Regions from separate parts of the Homo sapiens genome. Here regions 1 and 2 are each linked to region 3. The links come from fine-mapping of genetic effects on gene expression. A gene starts in region 3. Each other region holds a variant in brackets. All regions are shown on one strand. Distances are from middle to middle.

Region 1 (10,236 bases), 85 kb after region 3:
GCTACATGGCTCCCCAGGCCTTAGAAAAGAGGCAACATTAATCCCTCCATCTCCACAGGCCTTTGCCAATCATTGCGGCAAATTCAAACAGGGGGCACAAGAGAAGCGGAGGGTCCAGCAGCTTTGGTTCCGTCCCTGACTTCCCGCCTCAGAGGCCTCTCATCACTGTAATTCCCCTGGCAAGGCCCCCACCTAAGCCTCTTTGCTAACAGAGTATTTTTAACCTGCCACCTCCTTGCAGCTTTGCCGATCTGCAGACAAGGGTCCCGGCGAGATAAGAGAATCCGTTAGTGCCGCTAGAGTCAGGCAGCGCCTGCTAAGTACTTCCTCAGGAGCTCCCTCCTCTGCCCCCAGGGAGCCGCTGCCGGACTGACGCCCAGGGATCTGAAGGCGAGGAGGGCTGGGTTTGGCACCTGCATGAAGGGAGCTCCAGCTTCTTCACTCAGCCCAGCCTCTAAAACAGAGTTTGTTTTCTCTATCTTAGGTGTTTTCAAAGATGGTCCCTGCCCTGGCTTTTTAAGGAGCCAAATTATTCCACTTCTAAGGGTATCAGATACTTTCATCTTCCCTTTTCCCTCCAAATTCTGTGGGGATTTGGAAAGAAAGTATTTCTTAGAAGGTGTCTGGAACTGGCCCTCAATGGAAGACACCACCAAAAAGCAACTGGTACTAAACCTCCCTATGAGAGGGAAGGGAAGGAAGGCTCACCTCTGCTCTTACCTTTTGCATTAGGGCATGCGGAGCAAAGAACTGCAGAGTCCTGAACAGGGTTCAGGGAGTAGGGGCAGAGCTCTTGTTTCTCCTCTTCCGCCTCCTCAGGTAGATGTTGGTGGTGAATGGAGCAGAAGAGGGTTTTGGGGAACAAAAAAGAGGCAGAGGTGGATTGGGCTGGGAGGGGCTTGCCCAGGAAGGGGAATCACAGAAGTCTTCCCCTGTAGCCTGCAGGGCTAAAGGTGTCCCCTAACCAAATGCTCTCTAATGGGGCACACACATGCCAGCCCCTTCCTGCTAAGGTCAATTTCCATGCTAAATTGTTCATTATTGCCATGCGGCAACACTGTATGGAAGCGTCAGAACCCACAAGTGTGGGCAGAGTGGACAGGTGAACACATGAATACACCTGCCTTCCTGTGCTCCATGGGGGGAAGCGGCCCCTTTGTGGGGGTGGTGATGAGAAGCCCCCCACATGCTGACATCCAAGAGTGGGAGAAGGGCATCTGGCCCAGAGGCAGAGATCATCAATTCATTTAGCAAGAATTTATGGAGCATCGACTTGCCAGGCACTGTGTTCAGCACTGGGGACACCAAACTCAACAAAACAAAGGATGGTTGGGAGAAAGGACACCAGCAAGTTGTTGCACAAATAACTGCTTATTACATGGCTGGCCAGTGTTGTAGAGATGTCCAAAGTTCAATAAGCAGCATGGGAACCTGTAACTAGGGAACCAGAACTACTGGGAGAAAAGGGATCAGGAAAAGCTTCCTGGGGAAGCAATATTTAAGCTGAATTGTAAATGCTTTGTCAGCCTCTCTGTCTCATCCCTAATATGCACAGTTTAGAGCTCCCTACCCCATGCCCCTTGGGGCCACCCATCCACATTTCCCACCAGCCATCCCAGGCAAAGGTGAGCTCTCTAACTCCCATACTGCTCCCTCTCTCTCATTTCCCACATTGAGTTTGCTGCCAAATCTTGTCTGTTCATCTTTTCCCTCACCTGCCCTCCTTTCCACCTCCCTCCCCCAGCCCAGGCTGAGACTTTTATTATCTATTCTTGAACTTGTGCTGGCTCCTGCCCTGCCTTCTCTAAGTTAGCTTTCACATTTTTTATATCATTTAATGGCTCTCCGCAGCTTGTAGGTAGGGTATAGCTGAGTCTCTTGAGCAAGGTCTTGGCATCCCTCCACCAGAAACAGTTTATCCCTCCCTACATCCCTTCCCCATGCCACTTCTGCCACACTCACACCCTGTTCTTCCAGCTTTGCCAATCCCTCCCTCTTCCCTAAGTGCCCCTGTGCCTTGGCTCAAGGGTCAGTCCATGCCTATGTCTTGACTCAAGCTGTCCCTGCCATGCCTCCCTCTCTCTGCCTGATGAAGTGCCCTGTCCTTTCAGGTTTAAGTTATATCACACCTCCTCAGTGAAGCCTTCCTGATTTGCCCCTCTATAATCCCACATTTCTTATCATTGGTTACAGCACTTAGCAGAGTCAGCCTTGTATGTGAGTTGCTTGTATTTCTTTGTTAGAGGCAGTGTGCACAGTGGTGAATGTCACAGACTTTGGAGTGGGATTATTTGAGCTCAAAACCTGGCTCTGTTCTTACTAGGAGTATGACTTTGGGCAAGCTACTTAACCTCTCAATGCCTTACTTTCTTCATCAGGCATACAGAGATAATAACAGGACCTACCTCATAGAGCTATTGTAGGCATTTAATGTCTTCATACAGGTAAAGCACACGGAACAGTACCTGTTTGTTATTATGTTTATTTCATAGTTTATCTGCCTTCCTTGCCTGATTGTGAACTCCTGGAGATCAAGAAGCATGCAGGATTCATCTTTGTACTCCCCTAAAAAGATTCTGCTTCTCCCCATAGTCTCCTCAAAGAAAGAAGCACAAAGGGCCAAAGCTAGAAAGGACCTCAGGGCTCACCTTGAGTAAATGCTAATTTTATATATCAGTCAACTGAGGCCCAATAAACTGAAGGACTTGCCCAAATCACACAGCTAGAAACAGCTCTGGAAACCTAGCAGTCAGGAATGTAATACCCAGGTCTAGCTCACATCTCTCCTGCTCCAATACAAATGCTATTTCTACCTCCTCTTTGGAGAAGAACAGATGGTCAGTGTCATCTCCAGTCTTCCCTTGGCATATCACTGAGTCACATTTTCCAATCACCCTCAGCCTTCTGCCCTTCCTGCTAATGGATGTCAGCTGTCCTGAGCCCTTTGGCCTTTCCTAATGAGGCAGGTTTTTCTACCTTCCCATCAGGGTGCTGTGCTTCTACACAGGGTGCTGCGTGTTCTTTAAATAGAGAGCTCTAAGGAGCTACAAGCAGGATTTACGCTTGGCCTCAATGGAGACTCCAGGGCGAAGAAGGGGAGAGATCAAGTTGAGGCACACACAGGCTGGCTCCTGCTCCCCCTCTCCTCCCAGCACCTACCCTGCCAGGCACCCAGGCCACATTCAGACTCCTCCTTTTACTGTGGATTCAATACAATCTGGAAAATGCATTAAACATGACACAGAGTAGTTGACGCGTAATTAATAAAGTACAGATTTTGGCTGGAAGCCTCAACTTAAAATAGCACCATGACTGTGGAGAAAAAGGGAGGGCAGGGGAGAGAGGCTGGAGATGAATGTGATGAGAACCAAGACCGTTATCTCTGAGAGTAACAGGACCACTTCTCCCTCCAAAGCACCCTGAAATTAAGGAGGAGGAAGATAACAATTTTTTTATTATTATTAATGGGATGAAGCTGAGGCTCAGAGAGGCTAAATGTCCTGCCCAAGGACACTCGTGCACCATAGGACAGAGCCTTGGCCACTCGTCCGTGCCCTCAGGTGGTCAGAGTCCACCATTTGCGTATTAGTAATCTACTCTCTCGTGAAGTTGCACATTTCAGGACTGTTTTTAATTTGAGAGATGTTTTAATGGCATTTTGAGACAGACTGTTCCCTAGCTGATTCTCCAGAGAGGCTGGAGGGAGCTTCATATTTTCTTTGAAGAAGCAAAAAATAAAATAAAGCCTTTTCTTCTGCAAGCACATTCAGAGAGCCCTTTGCTGCAGTTCACCAGCCTTCTGGTGTGAGGGGAGAGGTGAGAAGGGGATTGAGGAAGGAGAGGGAGAGGGTAGAAAAGGCTTCTGTGGTTCATTCAAATGCCTGGGCCTCAGGGGCATTCTCTATTGAAGCTGGATCCCTGCTGCTTTCTGCCAGAGATTCCAGACTGGTTTTCTGAAGCAAAATGTAAATTTCAGCCCAACTAATCAACCCTGATAAGGCAACATCACCTCCAGCCTGCCAGTCATTAACAAAGGATCCAAGGCAGACCTGGGCGACTAGGAGCAGCAGCTCTGGGTGGAGGAGGCTGAGATGGAATATTCTGAAAACTCCAGAAGCAAATCACCAGAAAGCAGAATTTTGATAACAAAGGGGAAACTGAGGCAGGAAATCCTGATGTGATTCCCTCATGCCACTTGCAGTAATTCCTTCCTGTCTCTACAAGGTAGAAATGAACTTGATCTTTTTAAAATAGCAGTGGAGAGATGGGGACGTGTAAAAGTCTATTATAGTACAAGGCCCAGTGGGCCCTCTCTGAGAATAATTAATCTATGAATTATGTGACATAGGAAAACAGCACTGGTTTCTGTGGCATGATCTGTGTTGCATTTGTTTCTGTGCCCCAGAGCATGAATGCTATCCTTAGCACATAGCAGGTCCTCAAAAATGTTTATGGCAAGATTCAGGAGACCAAAACCAAATCTGTGCTCTAAACCTCTCAGAGCCTTGGTATATCTGTCTGCAGATTGGGGATAAAGAAGGCTTGTCTTTCTTCCAGCCTGTTGGGCAGATTGAATGAGATGACGTTCCTGTGTGGAAGCCACGCAACAATGAGATGCTGTTGAGTATCAGATATCTGGCTGCCGTGTTCTACCTAGTTCTGTGTTCCTCCCTCCCATGCCTGGGTCAGGGCCAGCTAGACTGATCTGGCAATCAGAGGGACACAAGGAGTTTCTCCTCCACCCCGTGGCTCTCCTTACAAGCACACTGTTCTCAAATACCCAGAACTTGAACCCAGAACCTTATACAGCTACTCTTCCCAGGGGGAAATAGTTCAGAGCTCCAGAGCCAGAGGCCCAGCTGTCAACTAAATTCCCCGCAATAACCCTTTCTACTTCTGGGCGGGGGGGGTTGTACTAATGAAGGGAAGAAGGGACAGAGAAAAAACATGCTATCTATCTCTGGTAGCAGAAGGAGTGAGGGAGGCTCTGGTGGGAGAGACGGGTTGGGTTTCACTGGCATTCCATAGCAGGCCTTCCGAGTGCAGCTGAATCAGAGCTGAGGGAGCTGCCGAGACCAGAGGAGCCTTACAGTCGACTGTGGGCAAACCTGATAGCCCATCTGGAATCCATCCATGGCCTGGCTCCCTCCCCCATGTCCTGAGCTCACTGCAGAAGCCATGGTGGAGGAGCAGGGCCAGGCACCTCAACCAGCAGGCTGTAAAATCCCCCAAGTGCCAGCCCACCAGCCCCTGCTGTCCCTCCCTGGCTCTGGAAGCACAGGTTCACCCTCCCACTCACCAGCCCCTGGCTTCAGTTCCTGCCCCTTCCTCTCTGAGAACCAGAGTGAATAATCTTACGGCTTTGAGTAGTACAGAGATGGCGAAGCAGCATCAGAGATCCGGCCCTCCTGAGGTTATTTAGAGGGCCTGAGAATGCCAGCTCCAGTCCATGTCAGCAAGAATTGCAAGTGGGCGTCACGGTAGCACCAGACTTTCAGATCTTCACAGAGGAGTTGACCAGCCCTTGGCTGTCAGAGTCCTAAATCCCCTTGGATGGCTGGTGTCCCCAGTCTCCTCTGACTCCAACATCCTAAATGCCCAGACTCTCAAGACAGAAAGAGCACGAGCTGGAGGACGTGGGATTGTGCAAAGAGCAGGGGCAGCCGTCTTCCTGGAGCCTGGTACTTTAGCATAGGCTCCCCAGCTGTTTGCTTGGTGATTTTGAGG[G/A]AGTTGTGTGCTTTCACCAGGACTCAGTTCCTCTTCTATGGGAAGGTACTTCCCCCCACAGGATGATCATGAAGATCAAAAAAGAAAAATTAGGTGATAGAAACAAACAAAATGTCATTACCTTCAGCATACCCTCAGCCTAGCAGATGATAATGCAGTGCCTGTTAGATGGACAAAGGACAACATTGGCTGGGAGAATCAATGCCCAGCTCTGAGGAGCCCTCCCCAGAGCCTCTAGGGAAGGGGTTTCCCCATTTTCCTGGCATTTCTCCCACTCCCTAGGTTGATTGGAGTCATGGTGGTTTTGTTGTCACCTGCCATATTTCAGTAACCTTTGACCATCGCCCAGCTAGCCTGTGGGGGTAGATGCCTATGCGGCTCTCCCTCCCTCTCCCATGCAGAGAAGCACAGTCCTCCCTGGGAGCAGGAAGGAATGTGCTTCCTGGGAATACTCCTTGCCCCATGTGCTGGAGATAGAGCCCACTGCAGGGCTCCACCACAGGGAGGATCTTGAAAGCCAAGAAAAGCGACCCATTTGTTGGAGAACCCGACAGGGTCAGAGGCAGCTCAGACCACCTGTAGGGAATCAGGCCCTTTTGCCCACCACAAATCTCTTTTAACAACAAACTTTGAGAACAGCCTGTTTTCCCAGCGCAGCTTCCTGCATAGTGTTTGCCTAATCTTTCTGTCCAAAATCCCTCTCCAAACAGGAGGTTTCCTGCCCAGCACTGGCAATCAGAGAGCTAATTATGTGGGATTAGAGATGGAGTTGGGGGGTGTTCCTTTTAATTACAGGAAAAAATTAGTCCAACTGATGTCGGCAAGGCCACTGGGATTAGAATGAAAGTCCAGGTTTGGGCACAGGTCAGTTTGGGAGGTGGTAGAGCCCCCATGCTCTGGGGCTGGTGTCTTCTGCCCTTAACTGCCTCTGGAGTCTGGGGCAGACAGGGGGAAATGCAGGTCTCTGAGGAGCTTCTCTTTTGGGAATCTTGGAGAGGTCATGTGTATGTATGAGAGAGGAGACAGACACAGGGAGAAAGAAGTAGAGACAGCACAGAGAAAGAAACAATGTATATGGAGAGATCTGGGGATTGATGGGAGAGAGACAAGGAAGGGAAGGAGAAAGAGAGACGCAGGTGGGTGTTAAGAGGAGATTTTGAGTAAAAACAGACAGAGGGACACAGGTTTAGAGACCACCATTTCTCTCCCCACACTCACTGTGGACTAGTATTTATGTGACTGTCTCTTTCAACGGGGAAGAAGAGAAAGGCATCAGAAGCTGTACCTAGGCTTCTGTCCTCCCTCCTTCCTACCTTCCTTCTTTCCCACTTCCCACTCTCTTTCCCCTGGTGTCCAGCACACTGGCCTGGTTTCACAGCACACGGTGCCAGTGAGGAATGCTTTGGCCTGGCTGGGGACAAGGATGGTGTGGAAAGCTTGGACTCCGCTGGGCTCCTAGTGATCTTGAGTCTCCTCTGTGGCCTGAAGATGGGGCTTTCTGCCAAACAGTCTTGCCTTCTCTCCTATGAGAAGAATCTCTTGGCCAGAAAAGCATTCATTCATTAATTTATTCATTCATTCTTCCATTTTACAAATAATTACAGAGCTTTATTATGGGCCAGACCCATAGGAGTTTCTCCTCCACCCCCGTGGCTCTCCTTACAAGCACACTGTTCTCAAATACCCAGAACTTGAACCCGGAACCTTACACAGCTACTCTTCCCAGGAGTCTATGAATTTTTATTAGTGCAGTGGAATACAAATCAACCACTGGCTTTCCATTTTGAGTGGTATCTCCCCACCTCACCCCTGTCATCCAGCCCCTCACTTACAACATCCTGAGAGTAGCCCAGACCCTCACTCAGAAACATCCACTGGCCAACTCTTCCTTAAAGAGGCAAATGATATAAGCACAGAGTAAAAAGACCTGAGAATATTTTGAGGCAATGTACAACAGGTACAGATTCATAGGGTACAAAGAAAAGACCTGAGCATAATTATTTGTGTGTATTCATATCTCACTTCTTTCCAAAGAAGGAATTAAGATGACTTACAATAAAAGATTTGGCCAACATGGAATGATAACTGTCTTAGAACTAGAAAAGCCAAGCCATAAAGGGAGTAGAAACACATATGTTACCAAGAAGGTCAACATAGGCACCAGGATCCAGCATGAGATTTGGCCTGAGTGTCCCAGCAGCCAAGTCATAAAGGGAAATGAAATGAGCAAGAAATCTTTACACTTTGAGAGAAGGCAGTGTCCCTACTTTTCAGGACATTTCCCAGACATTACATTCTGTAAATTATTTATCATGTGAGACCTGTACAGACACCAGGACAAGAGTTTGACATCCAAATCAGATGCTTCTTTTATATGGCAATTTCTTGTATTAGCTCCTGACAAAGTGCCAAGGCTGTGACTTCCATGCAACAAGCAGCATTCGATGTGTTATTCTTATGGAGTAACAAATGCTGAAAAATAAGTATATGAGGCTGTGAGGGAAAAGGAAGCTTGCTGGTTTGGCTTTTGTGGTCCAAGTTTACGGCTTTCTGGAGCTCTCACTTGATTCAAGTATAGAATGCAATTTTTAAGCACCCTGTCATGCTTGGCACTCTGCTAAAAGTTGAATAAAATGAACTATATAGATTCAACTTCTACATCTGGGAATTTATAATTTATGTTGGCACTTAGATGAGGCTCAGACAGCAGAATAAGAGCATTAAAATGACAGACAGTAAGATGTTAACATTATACACAAGACAAAGGTGAGTGTATTTTAGGGAAGTAAATGGATTAATAAAAGATTTTATAATCAAACTGACTCGTTTGCATGCCTTTCTACTACTGGCTGGCTGTGTGGCCTAAGGCAGTCACTTAACCTCTCTGAGCCTCAGTTTCTTCATCAGTGAAATGGGTTTTGGGTTTCATCAGTGAAATGGGTTTTGTAAATGATTTGCATGTAAATCATTTACATAAGATGCCTGGCGTCATGTCCAATTCGTAGCATGTGCTCAATAGTATAGCTATGCTCACATTCTAGGATTGTTAAATAGGGATGAGTTCCTAGTGGGGTGAGAGGAGCAAGAGTCTTCCGATCCACTCCAGGGAAGCTGAAGACTCATTACTTCTTTCGATGAATGCCCCCAAAGCCGTTCGCTTCCTAATAGTCAGGATGTCTAAAGCTGAACTGGAAATATTCCAACATAGGTCATCTCAGGAACCCGAGAAACCTCTCCCTTTGATCTGTTTATATCACAACTTGACTGGGAAATCCATAACCCTCCTTTCTTTCACCCTGCTTTCCCCACTTAGGAAATGCCCAGGACTTGGATTTTGCTGCCCCAGGGTCATTATTTAGGCCATCCTCCCTCACCAGCCACATAGGCTCTCCTTTCCTTAAGCCTCAGGTACTCCTTCACTGCGCTTCATGGGGAGGTCCTGGTGTCAGGCAGAATGAAGGGCATTAACTCCCACATTTCCTGGAGGGATCCCTTTGTCCAGATTGGTTGTCAGCCAGACCCAGGCAGCCTCCAGGCTATAGCAAGAGGGGGTGAAGATGGGAAGCCATGTGATGCTCCCCTGCACACCCCACCACACCCCTGTGACAGCTGGAGCCCAGCATCCCATGAGCCAGAGCTCAGCATCCCATGAGCCAGAGCTGGGCAGGGAGGGTGGGACAAGTCCAGTGCAGCCGGGTGTTGGGCCAGGAGTCAGGTAGGCCCCAGGCGGGTCCTCCAGGCACATCCCCTTGGTCCTGCCCTCCCCATCCTCACCTCCGCTTCTTTGCAGTTTCTCTGGTACTTTCCAACTTACTGCCAAATTGTCAAAAGCTATGAGAGGCAAAGTGCTGTTCAGTTAATGACTCCAGTCCCTGGAGAGGTGGAGCACTCTTTTAAGAGAAAAAAATCCTAGAAGAGTGGGGGTGTGGGAGGGGCAGAATGAGGGATGCTTTAGTACTTTACACAAAAGCCAGGCTATAGCTCCTTTCAGCACTTTTTAAGGAGCATATTAGCAGTGGGTAGGTTTGCCCCGAGCTGCCTTCTCTCTGTGGGTGAAGGACTGGAGCCTCCCCCTTGCTTTTCTCTATTTCACAAAGTGAAAAGGGTCTGAGACAGAAGGCTGCCATCCCTTCGGCCCAGTGACTGCGGCCCTCTGTGTCCCCAGCACCGGTCCTGTGGAGACCCTAGTCAAACGACTCCTCCTTGCTCTGAGAGAGGCTGCCTTCAAAAGCAGGCTGGAACGGCCACTATGCAAGGGGTTCGCGCTCCATGCACCTGCTAACCCTCTGCTGCCTCCCGCTCCTCCTCCCCGCAGTCCTGCTCCCTTGGAAAGGACAGAGGAGGAGGTACTAATTTCCCCCATGTCCCCCTGAAGAATTTCCTCCCAGCCCAATTTTCCTCCTCAGTCTGGTCCCACCCAAGTCTATGAATCAGAGATAAATCAATCCAAAATCCCTCTTTCATGCTTTCCTTTCCAGTTTCCCAAATGCTTTCACATTCCTTATCTCA
Region 2 (10,236 bases), 250 kb before region 3:
CAACAATATCTTATGGCAGCCAGGGTCCTCAGGTTAATTATACCTTCCTACATTTAAAATAATTTCCTTTCTTAATCCACTTAAAATATGTGTCCTTCAGAATCAGAATGCTGCTCTCCCCATCTGGAGATGTCATATAACTAGATGCCTAAATGGATTTTCAGATGCACTAATTACTTTACAGCTTTCTCTGCCAGAGCTGCTGCAGTCACTGGCTCATCAGAGCCGTGGCTGTTGTTGCTCACTGGCACTGCTGTCCTGATGGCCTGGCTATGCTTGTTCCTTTTGGCTGTGGAACGGCTCTTCCCAGACAAGCCATTTATCTAACTCCTGGTATCCACAGACTTTAAGTCATCAGCTTTGGATCATTTCCAATGAACTACCAATATCCATCCTACTCTCCAGGAGAAAAAAAAACCTACCCTGTGATGGTTATTATTAAAAATTAGTAATAGATGTGTAAGCTTTAAATGAGTACATTTGTTCCTTGTCTTTTAACAAACATTATATTTTACATGAAAGTTAAATTGGAGTACTCCCAGTTACGTAGTCAACCCTGAATACACATGGATTCAGCTACCTGCCTTCATTTCATTTCTTTCTTTCTTTTTGAGATGGGCTGTCACTCCATCACCCAGGCTGGAGTGCAGTAGGGTGATCTCTGCCATTGCAACCTACACCTCCCAGATTCAGGTGATTCTCCTGCTTCAGCCTCCCGAGTAGCTGGGATCACAGGCACCCACCACAATGCCTGGCTAAATTTTGTATTTTTAGTAGAGATGGGGTTTGACTATGTTGGCCAGGCTGATCTCAAACTCCTGACCTTAAGATATCCACCTGCCTTGGCCTCCCAAAGTGCTGGGATTATAGGCATGAGCCACCGCACCCGGCTTCTGCCTTCATTTCGAGAGTAAGTTTATAATGGCCTGAATGTTTGCTTGGGCTTCTGCTCAAACCTTATCTGCAATCCCTGTGGCACTGCATCTTCCTGTGTTTAAACAGTAGATTTGAAATAAACAAGGATGGCACTACGACTGAAAAAGCAAAGAAAGAGAATTTGAGTCATTTCAGATTTGTCATTCTATGTGACCACTTGGAGTATTTATTTGTGTTTGATATTTAAAACAGTGAGTCAGAGTATAAACTGGGAGGTCTAATATTTTTGTTTGATAAGTGCCAATTTTAGTTTGTGCATAAAATGCCATGCTAAATCTGAACGATATCTTTAAAATTGAAATTTATTCATTTTGTTTTAAAACTAAAGTATGAATTAAGAAAAAAGGGTTTTATTAAAATTTATTAATTAGTTATTAGACAATGATGTACATTAAATATTATATCTGATTTTTATCAAATGATCCAAATTCAAACTATTAGGTATATATAAAACTGTAGAATAAATAGTTGTGATTTTTTTCTCGTTCTAGTAGGAACATGGAGGAACTTGAAACCATGACTGTATTGGCTCATAATTATTATGAATTTTGTAAAGAGATTTGAAGTGGGAACCCGACATAATGACATTGACTCAGTGAAGTTCAACAAAGATAATTATGAAACAAAACAAAACCAGAGGAAGTGACGCAACATCTAGATCTACTTTGAACTATATAGTGCCTTCAAAATCACATATAGCTTCATTTCATAATTGTCACTGAAAATAATTTTGTTGTACAGAGGAGGGAGGTGTTAAAAAATTATGTGTTCTAACTGTCAAATATGCTAGAGATTTCACCAAATTACTGTTGCTCTAGCATTTCCCTGCTTACTGGGAAAATGAGTGTCTTTTGTGTTTATTAAACATTCATGTTTCTTATTTTACAAAATGTTTGCTAAATCTTGTGCCTATTTTTCTATTGGGATTTATGATCAATCTGTACAAGTTCTTTATATATTCTTAGTATTAACCCTTTTATCCTCAAACATGAGTCTGTTCTTTATGTCCCCGAATTACCCTATCATGTATCAATATTTCGTGAGATTCTATAAGGCTATCTTTTTGTTCATGATTTTAAAATTTATTGTATTGTGGTTAAAGAACTTGGATTCTATGAGAGAAACTCCTTGAGATTCTGGATTTCATATTTCTTGTTAAATAGATTCTTTAGTTTTTATGCAATGCCCTTAGTTATTCTTAATAATATTTTTATTCCAGCCTATTTTGTCTTTTACTAATATTGTTAACACCAGGACTTCTGCTTCCCACCCAGATGGGGTAAGCAATGACTGGATTTACCTTCCTTCCTAAAAACAAACAAGCAAACAAAAAAGCAAATAATTTTCAAGTCACTAGATAGCAGATTATGAAGAATAATTTGAGGGATGGGAAACAAATGCAGTGAGCAATTGGTCTAGCTTAGGTCTTGATAGAGGTTCCAGGATGTGGAGCATGGAGGAAGAACTCAGGTAAAGTTTGGCAGACTCCCTGAATAAACAGAGCTCAAACTCAGCTGAAAACAGAGCTCAAAGTCAGCTGAGAACCAGGTGGCTGGGGTGCACAGGAGAGAATACTGAAAAGAAGGGAACTACAGAAAAGAACTCTGGCAATTGTAGAGGGTGCCGCTCGAGTATTCAGCTGAAGACTAAGTGCAAGCATGTGAGAAAAACCCTGAGGCTGAAGAAAGAGCCACTCAGAAAGGATTAGAAGGAACAGTAACCAGTGCTCACATAGGTCAAAGAATAGTTCCTTTCCCACCAGCCAAACTGGAAGGTTTTATGATTCATGGGTCTTTGGGTAAACTATTCCGAGGAATCTTTCCTCAGTGGTGGAGAATCCTTAGTGCTGCTCCACATACCACTCTGGTCCCTTTTAACAAAGATTAAAAGCAAAACCCAAGAGAGCCGGACTGTTTCAAAGTAACTTAACTGTATTCAAGAACAAAGCTCAAGACAATTTAAAAGAGTACAACATATCTAAGAACCAACAAAGTAAATGTGTAGTACCTGGCATCAGAAAAAAAAAAAAAAAGAAAAAGAAAATTATTTCATTTTTTTTCCAAGATGGCATTAGAGGCTTTTAACATGCCTCAGCCACTTGGAAATAGCAAGGTAGTGCATAAAAATTGACTCTGTGAGCTTTATTTCAAAATGGAAATGGGACACCCCAGATCCTGGGGAAGAGAACACCAGCAAAAAGCCCCCGTGAAGACATTCAGCTGATAAGAGTGAGTGCAGCCCCAGAACACGGGAGAGGCAGAGAGCTACCCTCCATGACTCACCTGTCCACTGGGGATCCAAGCCACCCAAGCCAGGGAGAAAACTTTGTTTCTCCCCAAGACCTAGAGCTAACTTGGGGACAGGCTTGGAGATCCTCAGAGGAAAAGACACTAGGAAAAGCTGCAGACATTTTCCCAGACTGGGAGCAGGAGCAGTTTTAATCTGGGCACACACAAAGTCATCATTTGGTAACGCAGCAGTGTCGCCATATAGACATTTTAATCTGAAGCCAGAGATCGGGAACATGTGCTTTGGAGCAGAGTAGGAGCCTCCATAGACATAGCTATGGAAAGCGCCTCAGCAGTAGGTGCTGGAATTGTGCCCCCGCACCCCATGTTACAAACCTGGGCCCAGTTTCTCCCGGGAAACGAGACTTGCAGCCAGGGCCAGCTTGGTGACCTGGAACCTGTCTGCATGTGTCCCTGCAGGGTGCTGAGGGAGAATACCTTCAGCAGTCACCGAGCACCCAGAGGTGTGCCTACATGTGGAGCTGGGAAGCCTCTTTGGCTCCAAGATCTTGGCCTGCTGCCCTGAGATCTTGGTGCGATGAGGCCCTATCTGCTCCACACTCAGGCAGATCTCCAGGCATTTGGGGCACCTACTCGCCTGGATGAGCAACCTGAGCTGCCCCACCGTTCCTACACAGAGATCCTGGTGCAGGGGGGCTCCTTCCACTCCATGCCTGGCAGATCACCAGGCATTTGGAGCACCCACTCAGTTGGACCAGCAGCCACTCCACCCTTCCTGTGCAGAGATTATGATGTAGCAGGGGCCTCTCTGCTCCATACCCATGCAGCTCTCCAGGCAGTCAAAGCACCCACTCACCTGGATTAGCAGCCTGAGCCACCGTATACGTTGTGGTACAGCAGGGCCCTCTCTGCCCATGCCTAGGCATGTCTCCAGGCATTCAGAGTAACAGCTCACTTGGATTAGCAGCCTGAAACACCTCACCCATCCTGTGCAGAAACCTTGGTACAGCAGGGCCTTCCATACTTCATGCCCTGGCAAATCTCTAGGTATCTGAAGCACCCAGTCTCCTGAATTAGCAGTTTAGGCCACACCCCCTCCCCATGCAGAGTACTTAGGGACAAGGAGGTTTCCCAGCTCCACATCTAGACACACGTCTGGGTGTTTGGTGGCTGTTCATTATATTCTCCCTCAGCACTGGTGCTTGTGCCATACCTGGTCCCTCCCCTTGCATTTTTGCCTCACCTGTACCCCTCTCCCCACTCCAGAGCTGAGCAGGGAACTCAGACCACTGTGTACTTCACAGATCAGCTCACTGCCTGAGGCAGCAGAGAGTTTCTCCCAGTAAACATGCATCAAGTATATACCCAGCCATATCTGCCACAGCTGGCTCTTACCCATAAGCACCATCTACTGGCTTGTAGGTTAGCCCAATATAAAACCTGCTGACAGAAGTGCATACAGCTATAAAAGCAAAACCAAGAGACCCTACCCAGCATTCTCTAAAGCCACACCCCCTGGTGGGGAGAAGGAAAAGGAAAATTTTAAAATAATAATAATATTACAGGGAAAAAATGAAAAAGAAAAAATCTTATCCACATAAAAATGGTTATAAAAGTTAGAATTGCCAGCATCTCCAAATGAGAAGAAACCGGCACAAGAATTCTGGCACTATGAAAAATCTGAATGTAGTAACACCACCAAAAGATCACACTAGTTTTCCAGCAATAGTCCCTAACAAAATGGAAACTCAGAAATGACAGACAAAGAATTCAAAGCATGGATTGCAAGGAAGCTCAATGAGATCCAGGACAAGACTGAAAATCAACACACAAAAAAACTTTTAAAGCAATCCAGGAAATGGAAGAAGAGATAAACATCTTTAAAAAAATAAATCAGAGCTTCTGGAATTAAAAAACTTACTTAAGCAATTTCAAAACACAATTGACAGCTTTATCAATAGACTATACCAAGCAGAAGAAATAATTTCAAAGCTTGAAAAACAGCCTTTTAAACTAACCAAGCCAGACAAGAATTTTTTTAAAAAAAGAAATTTAAAAAGCACACAAAGTCTTTGAGAAATATGGGATTATCTTTGAGACATATGGGATTATGTAAAATGACTAAACCAATGAATTATTGGCATTCCTGAGAGAGGAGAAAAAGTAAACAAACTAGAAAATATATTTGAGGGAATAATTCAAGAAAAGTTCTCTAATCTTGATAGAGCAGTAGACATCCAGATACAAGAAATCCAGAGAACATCTGGATTATACAGGTGTCCTGGAGATATTATACAAAATGAACACCCCCAAAGCATATAGTCACCAGACTGTCCAACATCAATGCTAAAGAAAAAATCTTAAAGGCAGCTAGAGAAAAAGGTCAGATCACGTACAAAGGGAACCCCATCAGGCTAACAGTAGACTTCTCAGCAGAAACCTTACAAGCCAGGAGAGATTGGGGGCCTATTTTCAGCATTCTCAAAGAAAAGAAATTCCAACCATGAATTTCATTTCCCACCAAACTAAGCTTCATAAGCTAAGGAAAAATAAAATACTTTCTAGATAATCAAGTGCTAAGGGAATTCATTACCACTAGACAAGACTTACAAGAGATCCTTAATGGAGTTCCAAACATGGAAATAAAAACACAATGCCTGATACCACAAAAACACATTAAAGTACATGGCCCACAGACCCTATGACGCAACCACACACTAGAAACTGCAAAGAAGCCAGCTAAGTTCACAATATGATCAAACCCTCACAATCTCAATATTAACCTTAAATGTAAATTGTCTAAATGCCCCACTTCAAAGGCATAAAATGGCAACTTGGCTAGGAAAAAAAAAAAAAAGACAAGACCCATCTATCTTTCTTGAAGAGACCCATCTCACTCACAATGACACCCACAAGCTCAAAGTAAAGCCTTTGATTTGTTGGAGAAAGATCTATCAACAAACAGAAAATTAAAAAGAGTGGGGTAATTATTCTCATATTAGATAAAACAGACTTTAAACTAACAACAGTAAAAAAGGACAAAGGGGAACATTACA[C/T]AATGATAACAAGTTCAGTTCAACAAGAAGGCTTAATTATTCTAAATATAAACACACCCAACATTAGAATACCCAGATTAATAATAAAACAAGTACTTCTAGGCCTACAAAAGACTTGAACAGTTACACAATAATAGTGGGGGATTTTAATGCCCTACTGACAGCATTAGACAAATTATTAACATAGAAAATTAACAAAGACATTTTGGACTTAAATTCAACACATGAGCAATAGGACCTAATAGATATCTGCAGGATACTCCACCCATCAACCAAAGAATATACATTCTTATCTGCACACAGAACATAGTCTAAGATAGACCACATGTATGGCCATAAAGCAAGTTTCAATAAGTTCAAAAAAATTGAAATCATACCAACTATACTCTCAAACCACAGTGGAATACAAATAGAAATAAATATCAAGAAGATCTCTCAAAACAACACAATTAGACGGAAATTAAATAAATTAAGGCAGAAACAAAAAAATTACTTGAAATATTAAAAACAGATATACAACATACCAAAATCTCTGAGATGCAGCAGAAGCAGTGTTAAGAGGAAAGTTCATAACATTGAATGCCTATATCAGAAAGTTAGAAAGATTTCAAATTAATGGTCTAATGTCACACCTAGAAACGACAAGAAAAGAAGCTAGAGAAGCTAGAAAAACAATACCAAACTAACTTCAAAGTTAGCAGAAGAAAAGAAATAATTTAAATTGGAGCAGAACTGAAAAAAATTCAGACCCAAAATACCATATGAAGAATCACTGAAACCAGAAGTTGGTTATTCGAAAAGACAAACAAATTCAGTAGACTGCTAGCTACATTAAAAAACAACACAAAAAAGAGAATATGCAAATAAGCAGAATCAGAAATGGCAAAGGTGGCATTACAACCAACCCCACAGAAATATAAATGATCCTCAGAGACTATGATGAACACCTCTAGGCATACATACTAGAAAATCTAGAGGAAATGGATAAACTCCTGGAAACACACAACATCCCAAGATTGACTCAGGAAGAAATCAAAATCCTGAACACACCAATATTGAGTTCTAAAATTGAATCAGTAATAATAATAATGATAATAATAATAAAAACCTATCAATCAAACAAGCCACAGATGGATTCACAGCTGAATTGTACCACTACGGGCCAATATCCCTGATAAATATAGACACAAAAATCCTCAGCAAAATATTAGCAAAATGAATCCAGCAGTACATCAAAAAGTTAATTCACCACAGTCAAGTCGGCTTCATTTCTAGGACACAAGGTTGGTTCAACACAGGCAAATCGATAAGTGTGATTCACCACATAAGCAGCATGTAAAACAAAAATGTATGATCATTTCAATAGACATGGAGAAAGCTTTTGATAAAATCCAACATCCCTTTATGATAGAAATCTTCAAAAAACTAAGCACTGAAGGAACATACCTCAAAATAATAAGGCTCATTTATGACAAACCCACAGCCAACATCATACTGAGCTGGCAAAAGCTGAAAACATTTTCCTTAAGAACAAGAATAAGACAAGGATGCCTACTCTCACCACTCCTATTCAACAGAGTACTGGAAGTCCTTGCTAGAGCTATCAGGCAAGAGAAAGAAATAAAAGGCATCCAAATGGGAAAAAGGAGGCAAATTATCTCTCTTCACTGATGATATGATTCTATACCAAAAATCCCTAAAGACTCTACCAAAAAGCTCCTAGAACTGATAAATGACTTCAGTAAAGTTTCAGGATATAAAATCAATGTACAGAAATCAGTAGCATTTCTATACACCAGTAACATTCAAACTGAGGGCCAAACCAATAACACAATCCCATTTACAATAGCTGCAGAAAAATGAAGTATCTAGGAATACATCTAACCAAGAAGGTAAAAGATCTCTATAAGGAGAACTATAAAACATGACTAAAAAAAATCATAGATGATACAAACAAATGAAAAAAAAATATTCCATGCTCATAGTTTGGAAGAATCAATATCATTAAAATGGCCATACTGCCCAAAGCAATCTACAGATTCATTGTTATTTCTACCAAAGTACCAATGTCATTTTTTACAGAATTATGGAAAAATATTATAAAATTTATATGGAGTAAAAAAAAAAAGCCGGAATAGCCAAAACAATTCCAAGCAAAAAGAACAAAGCTAGAGGCATCTCATTACCTGACTTCAACTAATACTATAACGCTACGGTAACCAAAACAGCATGGTACTAGTACAAAAACATAGACGCATAGATCCATGGAACAGAGTAGAGACCCTAGAAATAAAGCCACACTTCTATAGTCATCTGATTTTTGACAAAGTAAACAGAAATGAGCAATGAGGAAAGGATTCCCTATTCAATAAATAGTACTGAGATACCTGTTCAATCATATCCAGAAGAATGAAGATAGGTGCCAACTTTGAACCATATGCAAAAATTAACTCAACATGTTTAAAATTTTAAAATACAACAGATACTGGTGAGGCTGTGGAGAAAAGGAAATGATTATACACTGTTGCTGGGAATGTAGATTCATTCTGCCACTGTGGAAAGCAGTTTGGAGATTTCTCAAAGAACTTTTAAGAGCTACCATTCAACCCAGCAATAACATTACTTGGTATATAAATATAGGAAAATAAATTGTTCTACCAAAAAGGCACATGCACTCATATGTTCATTGTGGCGCTATTCACAATAGCAAAGACATGGAATCAAGCTAGGTGCCCACTTCTTTTCTTTTTCTAATCCCATGGTAGATTAGATAAAGAATCCACCATGGGATTAGATAAAGAAAAGAAGTTCATATATGCCATAGAATTCTACACAGCCATAAAAAAAGAATGAAATAATTTCCTTTGCAGTAACATGGATGCAGCTGGAGGCCATTATCCTAAGCGAATTAATACAGGAACAGAAAACCGAATACCACATGTTCTCACTTATAAGTGGGAGCTAAGCATTGGGCAAACGTATACATAAAATTGGGAACAACAGGCATGGGGAACTGATAGAGGCAGAAGGGAGGCAGTGGACAAGGGCTCAGAAACTACTTATTGGGTACTCTTCTCACTACCTGGATGATGGGATCATTTGAACTCCAAACCTCAGCATCGTACAATATACTCATGGTGCATGCTGTAAGTAACCTGCACAGGTACCCCTTGAAACTCAAAAAAAAAGTTGAAATTATTTTTTAAAATAACAAAATTCAAGGCATGACAAGAAGTAGGAAAATGCAATTCAAAATGAGGATACCAATTGGTCAATAAAAACAAACTGAGAATAGCACACAAGTGTTAGAATTAGCAGAAAAGTCACTAAAACAATTATTATAACCATTTTATATTTTCACAAAGTTAAGTTAATGGATAGAATGTACATTATTCAGGTGATGGTACCCTGGAAGGTCTGACTTCGCCACTATGTATCTTTGCATATAACAAAATTGTGCAACTACCTCATAAAGTTATACAAAAAATAAATAAATAAACTATACCTAACAAAAAGTTAAGTAGAGTCATGGAAGATGAAAAAGATACACATTGAACTTCTATAAATGAAAACTACAATGTGTGAAATAAAGAATACACTGCATGTAATTAATGATAGACTAGAATTGCAGAAAATAATAGTGAATTTTAAAACATAGCAACAGAAACTATCCAAAATAAAATACAAAGAGAAAAGAAAAGGAAACAATGAACAAAGCATCAAATAACTAATTCAACCATTATATGCCTAATATATGTAATTGGAGTTTCTAAGGAAGAAGAGAGATGAGAGAACATATTTTTCAAATATCCTTTGAAGAAATAATGGCAAAAAAGTTCCAAATCTGAAAAAAACACTATGAACCCACAGATCTAAGAAGCTCAGCAAACCCCAAGCACAAAATACATGAAGAAAATTACACCAAAGCACATTATAATTAAAGTTTTTTAAAACCAATGTTAAAAAAAAAATCTTAAAAGTATCCACAGGGGAAA
Region 3 (10,236 bases):
CAAGAGGCTTGGTTGAGCCCAAGAGTTTGAGGCTGCAGTGAGCTATGATCGCACCACTGCACTCCAGCCTGGGCAACAAAGCAAGACACTGACTCAAAAAAAAGAGGGAGTGGGTGATAATAATTACTTAATTACCTTGTAAGATTAGAGTTGTGAGGATTAGGATTAGCACAGAGTAGGAATTCAATATATTTTAACTTATACCATTATATTTTGATAATTATGGGCAACTGAAGAAAAAGTATTGTTTTGTCTCAATGAAGACGATGGGACAAAATGATTACTTCCTACCAGTTCTGTGAATTTCTGATCTCAAAGCAAATAAATGGCGCTGATTTTGTCCAGTCTTACCCCCCCCCCCCACCCCGAGAAAGCCCTGGCAGGCCCGCCCAGAAGACATTGAGCCCTCAGAAAGCCTTAGAACCCAACTGTAGTTCTGGCAGCAACTGTCCTCTGAACCAGGCTATGCAGCAAAGACAGGAGGTCAGTGACTCAGAACAGGCAGGGGATTCCTGGCCAGTGAGGGCTGCTGAGCAGGGGTGGACCCCAAAAGCACATTCACATAATACATCTCAGCCCACAGGGAATGGGACCATGCTAATTTCTATGCAATCACAGCGTGTTCTCCAAGGCACCTCAGCCGCCCCTCTCTTCTCTTGCTCCCTGGGAGGGTGTGGGTGTGTACGTGGGCTGCTTAGTAATGAGGACCAACTCCAGCCTGGGTGTGCTTTGTGATTCCATAGATGAAGGTTTGTGGACAGAATCTCTTTTTCTCTGCAGCATTTTTGAGTGGAAGAGTAGGAGAGAAGGAGGGACCCCGAGGTGATGGACAACAATGACCCCATAAGCAAAGGGATATTTCTGGTGAGCCCAGCTGTTTTTCCTAGAAAACCAACCAAGAGAAGAACTGCAGTTGTACAGTTGGGAAATAGGTTTGCCTCCGGATGGAACTTTCAGGTTTTAAGAGAACATTCCCATGGATTTGTATAATGCTTTCTGGCTTGTGAAGCTCTTTCATAGTCAGCATCTTGCAAGACATGAAATGCAAGGGACATTATTCCACTTTATAAAGGAGGAAACTGAGGCACCAAGAGATTTACCCAGGGATTATGTGACCAAATGATTAGTTTCTCCTTTGGGGGGATTCTTTTAGAAAAAATAAGAGAGGAAGGCCCTTTTCCTGACCCTTAGTGCTAGGAATAGAGCAAAAAAAAAAATAAGTCCTGAGCCTCAGCCTTCACCTTCCATGCCTGGAGCCCAGTTGTCCACACTCCCCTACCCCACCCCTCCTCTGAAGCCTTCTGACCTTGCAAATGCCAGAGCCTTGCAAACTGTTCCAGGGACCTATTTAAGTAGGTTTGGGACTGCAGTTGCCTGGGCTTCACAGAGAATATTCTTCTCCCAGAGCAACACACTAGATGGATGGAGGAGGGGAGGGAGGGTTAGGGAAAGAGGACGAGGTATACAGGGACATAAGCTCTGCTCGTGGGAGGTTTAGTGAGAAAGGAGCGAAATCCTGCCTTGTTTGATTTGGAGCCTTAACAGGCTTGCTACTGTTTAAAGTACACAGGAAAGTGGGATTTGTGAAGGGAGGAGAGGGGAGGGGAGGGGAGGGAAGGGTGACGTCTTTATGAATGGTACTGAGAACCCCGGAGCAGATGCCCTGTTCCTGTGTCCTGGGCTGCCAGCCCCGTTGCCTGGGCTGAGACCCACCACTCTGGCATCCCGCAGTCTCTCTCTTCCATTCACAGGACTTGGCCCACACACTCCAGGCTGGCCTGTCTGGACCAATCCCTTTGTTCCTAACAATGTAGGGGTTAAGGGGAGGCTGCTCTGCTGCTGGGGTTGCCTGACAGCATCTGCTGGATGAAGGTGAGGTACCTGGTAGGGAGACAGAAGGGACCACATTCCTGCCTGTCTATAGTGGCAAGCCTGGGCTCAGGGCAAGTGAAAGATGACATGCATCTTAGAGCAGAGACCAATCAACTTGGTGGTGGCATCAGTGGTCTCAGCTTTGGGAGCCAGGTACAAACCGGGCAACAGCCAGTGCACCATCCAAACATTGCCCTCTGACACTGGCAAGCAGGAGCACCCTTGGCTCCCAAGCACAGGTCCAGGCACACATCCTCCTGAGCCCACCTCCCAGCCGACTCAAGGCACCGTAAATATATGCATGCACACACTCTCAGGCAGCATTCCCATGCTAAACACTGATAGCTTGCCACCCCCCGCCTCTAAAGGGAACAGACTTGATGCTGAAAGCCTGCCAAAGTGTGGCTGGCTTCCAGCACCAAAAATACCTCCTGTGATCCGAGGGGCTACTGTACTGGCATCTATTTGTGGGGCTGGAGCTGCTGCTGTGACATAAAGGACTTCCCCTAGGGATGGGCTAGTTGCCCATTTGGGCCTGTGCTCCCCAAAGTCTAAGAGCTTGCTTTCCAGGGCCAAGGCCTGCTCCCAGCCTGGAAAATGCAGGTGGCAGCATCTTAGCCAAACCTGCCTTCCACAGGAGAAATATTCATTCTTCACAGGAAACATTCTGTGGCATTCCAGAATGTTGGTGCCCTGTCCTCTCCCACTTCTCTCATTCTCTTGCTTAAGTAACCCATCTAGTTACTTAGCTTGCTTCTTTGACAAGCAAAGAAGAGGCCTGGGGCCTGGAACAAGAATGCAGAAGTGACAAATGACTTTCAAGGTGAGGTTCCAGGAATATCTTGACTAGGGAAGGTAGGTAGGTTGGGGTGAGTGGAGAACCCTGTTGAGTGTGCTATGATTTTCCAATGATGAGGATTTGGCATAAGATAAACATTTCCCCATTCATTCATTTGTTCATTCATTTGATAAATATTTGTTAAATATCGACAGCCTGCTCACAAATATGTTGCACTACATCTATCCTTCCAGATGGAAATGAGGACGAACTACAAGGCCCTGACAGAGGACTGGTCAGTCCCAAGGGGCTGTGGGCCTGATATCAGATGGACAGAATGAGGAAGAATATAGTGAAGGGCAGAAACATACAAGAAAACCAGAAACCTCAGAAAGAGATAGATCTGAGGTTATAGAATCTGTAGGGTTATTGCCATGCTTTCTTTAAAAATATGTGCCAAAGCAGTAATTATGGACTGTATATAGTTCCATTAAAGGAAGAAATTTAGTAAATTTGCTCTTCATAAATATTTGCGTAATAAATGAATGAATACCCAGATCAAAGGGAGAAGGTTAACGAGCAGATGTAAAGACTAGAGGTTCAGGTATACCGCTGTTGCCTCAGAGGATGTCAAATCTAAATACGAACCATGAACCCAAGGTTTTGGTTTTTTTTTAAATTCTCAGAGCATGTTATGGTAATTAGATGTTTAGCTAATAAGATCCATATTTGTTCTAGCCTATTAGGACTAAATATAACAACAATCTTTCCATTTTGATGATACTATTACTTCTTCCAACACGCTTACATATATCTATTTTAATTCCCCCAGTTGTCTGGAGAGTGAAGACAGAAATTCCCATCTTACAGATGGACAAACTGTGGCCTAGAGAAGTTAGAGGTACTTCATCCACTGTACCTCCCAGTAGATCAAGTTAGCGCTCTTTCCATTGCTATGCTGACCACAGGCTCTTCCATAGTCTCACAGGACTCAGATCTTAGACCCTGTTCAGTGGCAATGTGGAATCTGGATGGCGTCGTGCCACCCTGTCAGCCACAATGTGTCCTCCCGCCTGTGTTCCCTCTTTCTCTCCCTTTATTCAGGAAAGAGAGGGGAGGTGTGGGGATAAAAGATGGGGTGAGTGGAAGAGTCTGTTTCATTTTATGCTTCCTTGCTCTTCATTCTAAGATTTATTTCTGGACCACAGGAGTGGAGGGTGGCATATGAGAAAATTATTTCAATTGTATCATAATCTTCCCAAGGTGTGATTAAATTGAGGCATAGGGAAGAGAGGTGACCTCTTCCAGAGTCAGACACCACTTGATTTAGAACCAGAGGGCCCTAATTTTCAGCTTGGAGCTTTATCAATTAGATATCTCCAATCCTACCACGGCTGGTCTTAGGTGTAGCTGGCCAAACTCCATGAACAAATGGAGGAAGTGTTCCAAAATCTTCTAGCATCTTCTTCAAATCATCTTTTTTAATAAATTGTGGTTTAGATTCAGTCTACCCAGAGATAAAACGATCGACTAGTCTGTCTGCATGGGGAGACAAGATCTACTTATAAAAATAAATAAATAATAACACAGGGTAAATATGATAATTTATTGGTGTGTTACCAACAATGAATGCTAAAGAAGTTTGAAGGAAAGAACAGGTATGGATCAGGCAACACAGCTTAGACAGATTCTTTGTGGTCCCACAGGACAAAACTAGCAGTAGCCAGTGAAAGTTACAGGAACACAAATTTCAGCTAATTACAATGAAGAACTTTTGAAGAATTCGCTGATTTCTGCAGATGTTGGAGTAAAGCCTAGATCCCCCAGTCCTGTGTTGAATGTGCGATTGTTCGAGATGACTGGTTAGTCTAGATTTCCTTTTCTTCTTCCTCTCTCTCTCTCTTTTCTCCGGCTCCCTTTCTTCATCCTTCCCTCCCTTCGTTTCTTCTGCCGCTACTGCTCTAAGAATTTGGTGCAATTGCTTTTAGGTATTCGCAGTGATTTTTGTTGTTTTTTAGATTTATACCACTGAGGACTGTGGCCACGAGAGGGCAGTAGAGGAAGCTTATCAGAATACTTGGACAGGAGTAAACTCGTGTGCGCTCTAATCGCGAGCAGGGACTACGCAGATCCTGCGAACTCGCTGGGGTCCAGCTTGCAGGCCGCTTCCGGAAAGCCGTGTCTAGAGGCTGCGGAGTTACTGAGACTGTGTGGCGAGGAATCAGTGGCCTTGAGGGCACCGAGACATTGTCATCCAGAATCCCGAAACCTCTCACCTTAGGTTATTAAAATAAGTTATCTTATTGCCACCCCTCTGATTACCCTGCCAGAAAGATTCTCTGAATTGGATATAGAAAGCTCTTCTCCCGTCCCCAATGCCCCCATGCAAGTCGGGACTTACCAGATGCCCAGGATCCCTATCAGGGCTGGAAGTTTGAGATTCAATTCAGAGCAAGGTTCATCTTCTCATTGCAATAATAATAATAACAACAACTTCAAGCCTTATTTGACAGCTTGTTGGCCTTTTTCTTTTTTTAATTTACAAGAAGAGGAAATTTGCTCCCACAAATTCCAAGACTCTAGTCTCAACCCTACCAGACAAGCCCCGTTCCTCCCCACTCACCCCTCACTCAAATTACAGATGAAGAGGGAGGTGTGCAGGATGTGTGCGGTGACAGGTGATGCGAATGGGGGGGATTCCCTGTCCCTACTGCCCTCACCCACTCTTCCTGTGTTCTGAGCTCCCCCCTAACCCCAACGCTAGACCTTCTATTCCCCCGGGGGCCAAGCCAGCTGGGCTCGCAAGGCCCGACTCGAATTCCCGGGCCCTGGCAGCATTTTCCTTGCCCCCTTGGCTACTTAAGGTGGCCGATGGGTCCGGGCTGAGCTGGGCGCAGGACAGGCAGCCGAGCGGCCTCCGGATGCCAAACCTGCTTCTCCTTTGTTGACAGCTTGCGGAGGAGGAAGTCCGCGCGGGCGGGGGAGGGGGCAGGGTGCTGGCGGTGGCGGGCGGTGCCAGCAGCGGGCGCGGCCCCAGCCCGGGCGGACGCGGCCGGCGGGGAGGGGGTTAACGCGCGCGGCCTCTATGATAATGAGCTGCATGGTGAAATAGGGAGGCCGGCGCTCAGGGCTCCTCCGCCGCCGCCGCCGCCGCCGCCGCCGCCGCCACCGCGGGAGCCAGAGCTGCCGGGAGGAGCGGCATCCGCGCCAGACTGGAGCGGGAGGGCGGCGGAGGGCAGTTGCTGGGAATTTTTCAGCCGAGAGGGCGAGCGATCCGGAGAGAGACCCCGAGAGCTTGGGAGCGGTAGGGCGTGCGAGCGCCGCAGCCAGCGGAGCAAACCTCGAAATAGATCTGGAAAGCCAGGCTCCCGGAGGAAATGGGACTGTGAACGAACCGGAGAGCAAGAAGGGAAGGAAGCGCCGGGATTGCTGATGTCAGAGGAGCCCGGAAAGTCGCGCTGGAAAAATCTGAAGACAGCCGGGGCTCTGCTTCTTCCTCAGGAGAGACACCGCCGGCCGCCCCCACACGCCCCCTCGGCGCCTCCGGGTGCCCCCTGAGAGCCGGCGACAGCGCCCAGCCGGGCTGCTGCGGGGCGACGGAGGACTGAGGGGCGCGCGGAGCGGAGACCGAGGAGCGACTTCAGGAATACAGATAAGTGTCTGGTGGCTTGACGTGGATTTTAATGAATTTGGACTCCATGTGGATTTGGTCGTCTCCCTGATTCCGAGCTGCGGGCAGGGAGAGGGGCCTCGCGCCGCCCTCAGCAGCCGGCGGCGGCCGAGGTAGACCGAGCGGGGACGGAAGGACAGACCGACGTCGCCGAGCTGGGTAAGCGGCGGCTGGGCCGGGCGCTCGGAGTCGGCAGCGCCCTCCGCCCTCTCCCCACAGGCGCGCACACCCGTGGCGGCTTCTCCCGCGCCCGCCTCTTTGGGGTCCCGGCCCCAGAAGACCCGGCTTGGCCGCGGCGGGCGAGTCCCCGCGTGGGCTCGGCCACTTTCGCGGGCTGGAGCGCGGCGTGCGCGCGATCGCAGGCTCACTGGAGCCGCTGCCTCCCGCCGAGGGCTTCCCGGCCGGCAGCCCGCCGGCTTCCCGAATGCGGGCTGAGGGCGGCAGCAGCGCTCCGCGGCGCGCCTCCACCGCGCACCTGCCGGCGCTCTGCGGCTTTGGGGAGCTCGGGGCGGCAAGGCTGTCCTGAGAGCTGGAGCCCAAAGAGGGCCTCGGTGGCACCAGCGAGACAGCCCAAAGCCACACTGGCCAGCGATCGATTTGGGGGCGTTCACTCCAGTGCCGGGGTCCCTGGTGGCCGCCGGCTCTCCCTTCCGATCGGGGACTGGAGATCAGGGGAATGGGAAAACATCATTTGCGCGGGTTCCATAAGGCTCAGGGAGAGATTCCTAGGCACTGAATGGGTCTAAGTGTTTCATCTCCCGGGGCTCCCTTTGCGGTGTATCGCCCAGCAGGGGTCCAGCCCCTTAGTTTGAGCACCACAGGAGTGCTGGGGGTTGAAATGGGAGTTTGCTTAGGGTCCCAGAGGCTCCTTATGAACCATTTGAGAATGTTTCCTTCCATGTGCTCTTTCTTGCCCCACCCCACAAGTGAGGTAGGGATCCTAGAAAATTCTAGCCCTTTTTATCCATCCCACAGGTAGTCTCTATAATGCCAATCATGGTCTAGATGCCCAGAGAGTCACCAGAAACTACCATTTTAGATCCCCGAAAAAAGTCCACCTGTTTGGAATGACCCTTGCCCTAGTGGGAGCTACCTACTCAAACTCAGCTCTGCTCAGGAGGGATAGAAATAATGGTGGGGAGGAAGTTGGATAAAAGATTTGGGGCTCTAGGTCAGTAAGGGTCTAGAAATGAGAGCCCCATGAAGTGGGCAATGGAAATCTGAACAGGTCCCCTGTAGGAATCTTAGAGTGACAGTGGCACACCAGTAGAAAGTGCACAAGGGACATGAAGGCAGCATCAGTTTGAGGGGACTGGGACTGCCAGTCATAGCTTGAGGCAGTCACTTGGGGGCCCATCAGTTTGGAAGAACCCACAGAAATTTGGGGGCACATTCATTTCCTTCCATTCACGCGCACAGTGGACAAGGCTTATGAGCGGCAGGCCAAGATGAGTATCTTGGCTGGCCTGGGCTGGAGGCTTTGAGAGCAGGAGTCAGGTTTAGCTCTCCCCTCTCCCCACACAATAGCAGTCTCCCTCCTTTGCTGGGCTTCTTTCCCAGATCTTGAAACTTCACTCTTCCCTCTGGGTTGGCTTTGGATTCTGGGGCCTTCTACTGATTGACAGAGCCCCAGGAAGAGATAACCTTGGCTGGAGGAATTCAGCTATTCCTAACTGAAATGCACAACTTTTATGCAATAACCCCAGAAAGCTCCCAGAGTTGCTTGCAGCCCTCTCCCCTCTGACCTCCAGGCAAGAAAAGAGAAGAATTCATTAACTTCCCTCTCTCTTCACGGAGCACCATTTGAACTAATTACCTGGGATCTCTCCTTGGTGGTGGCCTGGAGGCTGAAGGGGCAGTGAAGAGAAAGGGTAGGGAACCAAGGAAACAGTGGAATCTGTCATAGCGAGGTTGTTTTTCATTCCCCTTCTTCCACCTGGCATCACCACCAACCCCTCCTCATTCCAGAACTTGCCCCTGCTGCCACCAACCAGCATTACCTAAAGGAGCTATTTCCCTCCACTCCGCAGCCGATCGTCTTCAGGGACCTGCTGATAAAGGGAGGGCAATGCAGATTACCCTCTCTGCTCCCTCACTGTCCTCAGCAAATTGCATTAGGATGGGGGCAAACTGGCTTGCAAAGCAGTTAAATGGAAATGACATTTGGAGCGATGTGCAGGGAAGATGCTGAGGAGCAGCAGTGGTAAAGTACCAGGAGATCTCTATCCAGGGACCATGAGTCTGCCAAGGAAATCCCAGCTGGTCCTTCTTTTTGGCAGGGCATAAGGACAGGGGTCCCTCAAAGCCTGGAGCAGGACAGGGGGGCTGGCTAGCTTTTCAGCCCAAGTCTAAATGAAGAGTATGGCAGTGTCTTATGTCCATCGCCCAAAACCATGTCATTACAAGGTTGGTGGCCCCCCTTTCAGAGCTAGTCTGAATACCTATCCCTGTCTTCAGAGCACCAGGGAACATTCACCCTGCAACTCTCTTGACCATCAAAAGCTGCAGATGCGGTGAATGTAAAAGTTCCTTCACCATCTGTTTTACTGAAGTCTGCACTTAAAATGAGGTTAAAAAGAAAGCCCTCAAAGAACAGCTACCTGTTTCCTAGGTCCCTTTCCCATTTACCAATACTTCTGCTTACTCAGCTAATCTTTATTTCATGGGCAGGTTACAAGAAAACATAGGAACAGGAGGGGAAACCAGTGACATGGTTAAATATACAAGGCAGCAGCTGACAGCAGCCTAAACTCACCACTTTAGGTGCTATGAAATATTTATGGTGCTGGAGTTGTCACTGTTTGGGGGTTTTATAGTTTCTATCCTACCTCATTTTCTATGATTGCCTCCCTAAGATATAGGGTTTGGTGTGGGGGAGGCAATTCCTGTCTCCAGCAGCACCTCCCCACCACCACCAGCTGTCTCCCTGCATTGCCACACAGCTGTCTCCACACACACGAACTGAGGCACAATATACTTCTGTCCATCATGGCAAATGGAGAGGCAAGGAGCGCCTAGCCAAGCCCCCACCCCCCACCCCCATTCTGATCATAAAGAGACTGGAGCATTGTGTTACAGTCTGTTAACTAGAAATAATTCAGGACTGACTGTCCATAGGGAAACTGGTAGAAACAGGCTTTGAGGTGCTGGGAGTTTTACAGCTCGTGTGCGTTCCCCCCTCAGCCCCAATCACCACCGCCCCACCCAGGGGCAGTCTGTTATCAATTCATTATATGTGAATATTCTATTTCTACCCTTCACATATGCTCAGTTCAAACAATGATGAATGGAACCAGTTCCCTGAACAGTTTTTTCACTTCGTTACAAAGATTTCATGCCTGATTAGAGTAAATGAGGGGTGGGTGTGCATCCACTTCTTTTTCGGTCATTTCTAAAGGTGAGCCCTATGGAGACAGAGAGAAAGGCAGTTCTTCCCAGGGTCAAACAGCTGGTCTCAAGGCACGAGGGAGGGATGGCTGGTAAGAAGAGGATATCCCCGTCCTCCTGGGCTTAGCCCTCAGGCTCTCCTGGGCCTCATTCCCTGGCATTTGGGCATATGGAACCTCTTTATCTAGCTCCACACTGCTCCATCTGGAATTGGAGGGCATAAATAGAGGCGAGAAAGTTCTTTGTTGGGGAGCAGGGTCCTTGCGGGGTAAGAGTGTAAGGGGAGAGGAGGAAGGAAGGGCACAGAGCTGAAAGAAATGGCTGAGGCCTGAGCAGTGCAAAAGTTCTCTGCTTCTACAGTTGGTTAACCATTAACCGCCTTCCCTGCTCTGGTTCTGTCTCTCTCTTGGGTGAAAGAATATCTCTGGGAAACTCAGAGGACCAGCAGGTGTTCCCCCATACCCCCCTTCACCCCAGCTTAACATTTGCTGTGTCTCCACTGTCCTGCCACAGCCCCAGGCTCAGCCAC

The links. PIP is the estimated chance that this variant, and not a neighbour inherited with it, causes the effect.
Region 1: its variant is the best candidate, but not a certain one, in a credible set for the expression of PLXNA2 in whole blood (TOPMed, PIP 0.58).
Region 2: its variant is the best candidate, but not a certain one, in a credible set for the expression of PLXNA2 in whole blood (TOPMed, PIP 0.77).

The regions. Positions count from the first base shown.
Region 1 is chr1:208,154,888-208,165,123 of GRCh38, reverse strand. All of the region lies in intron 3 of PLXNA2 (plexin A2), which reads left to right. Among named protein-coding and RNA genes, the nearest start is that of PLXNA2, 84 kb to the left of the region's middle. RefSeq lists enhancers at 4,708-5,218, 5,219-5,731. The variant G/A (reference allele first, on the strand shown) is at 5,728.
Region 2 is chr1:208,490,547-208,500,782 of GRCh38, reverse strand. No RefSeq gene overlaps it. Among named protein-coding and RNA genes, the nearest start is that of LINC01735, 120 kb to the left of the region's middle. The variant C/T (reference allele first, on the strand shown) is at 6,242.
Region 3 is chr1:208,239,886-208,250,121 of GRCh38, reverse strand. It overlaps PLXNA2 (plexin A2), which reads left to right and starts at 5,738. Exons shown (of 32, transcript NM_025179.4): 1 at 5,738-6,479. RefSeq lists a silencer at 5,621-5,680 and enhancers at 6,199-6,698, 6,699-7,200.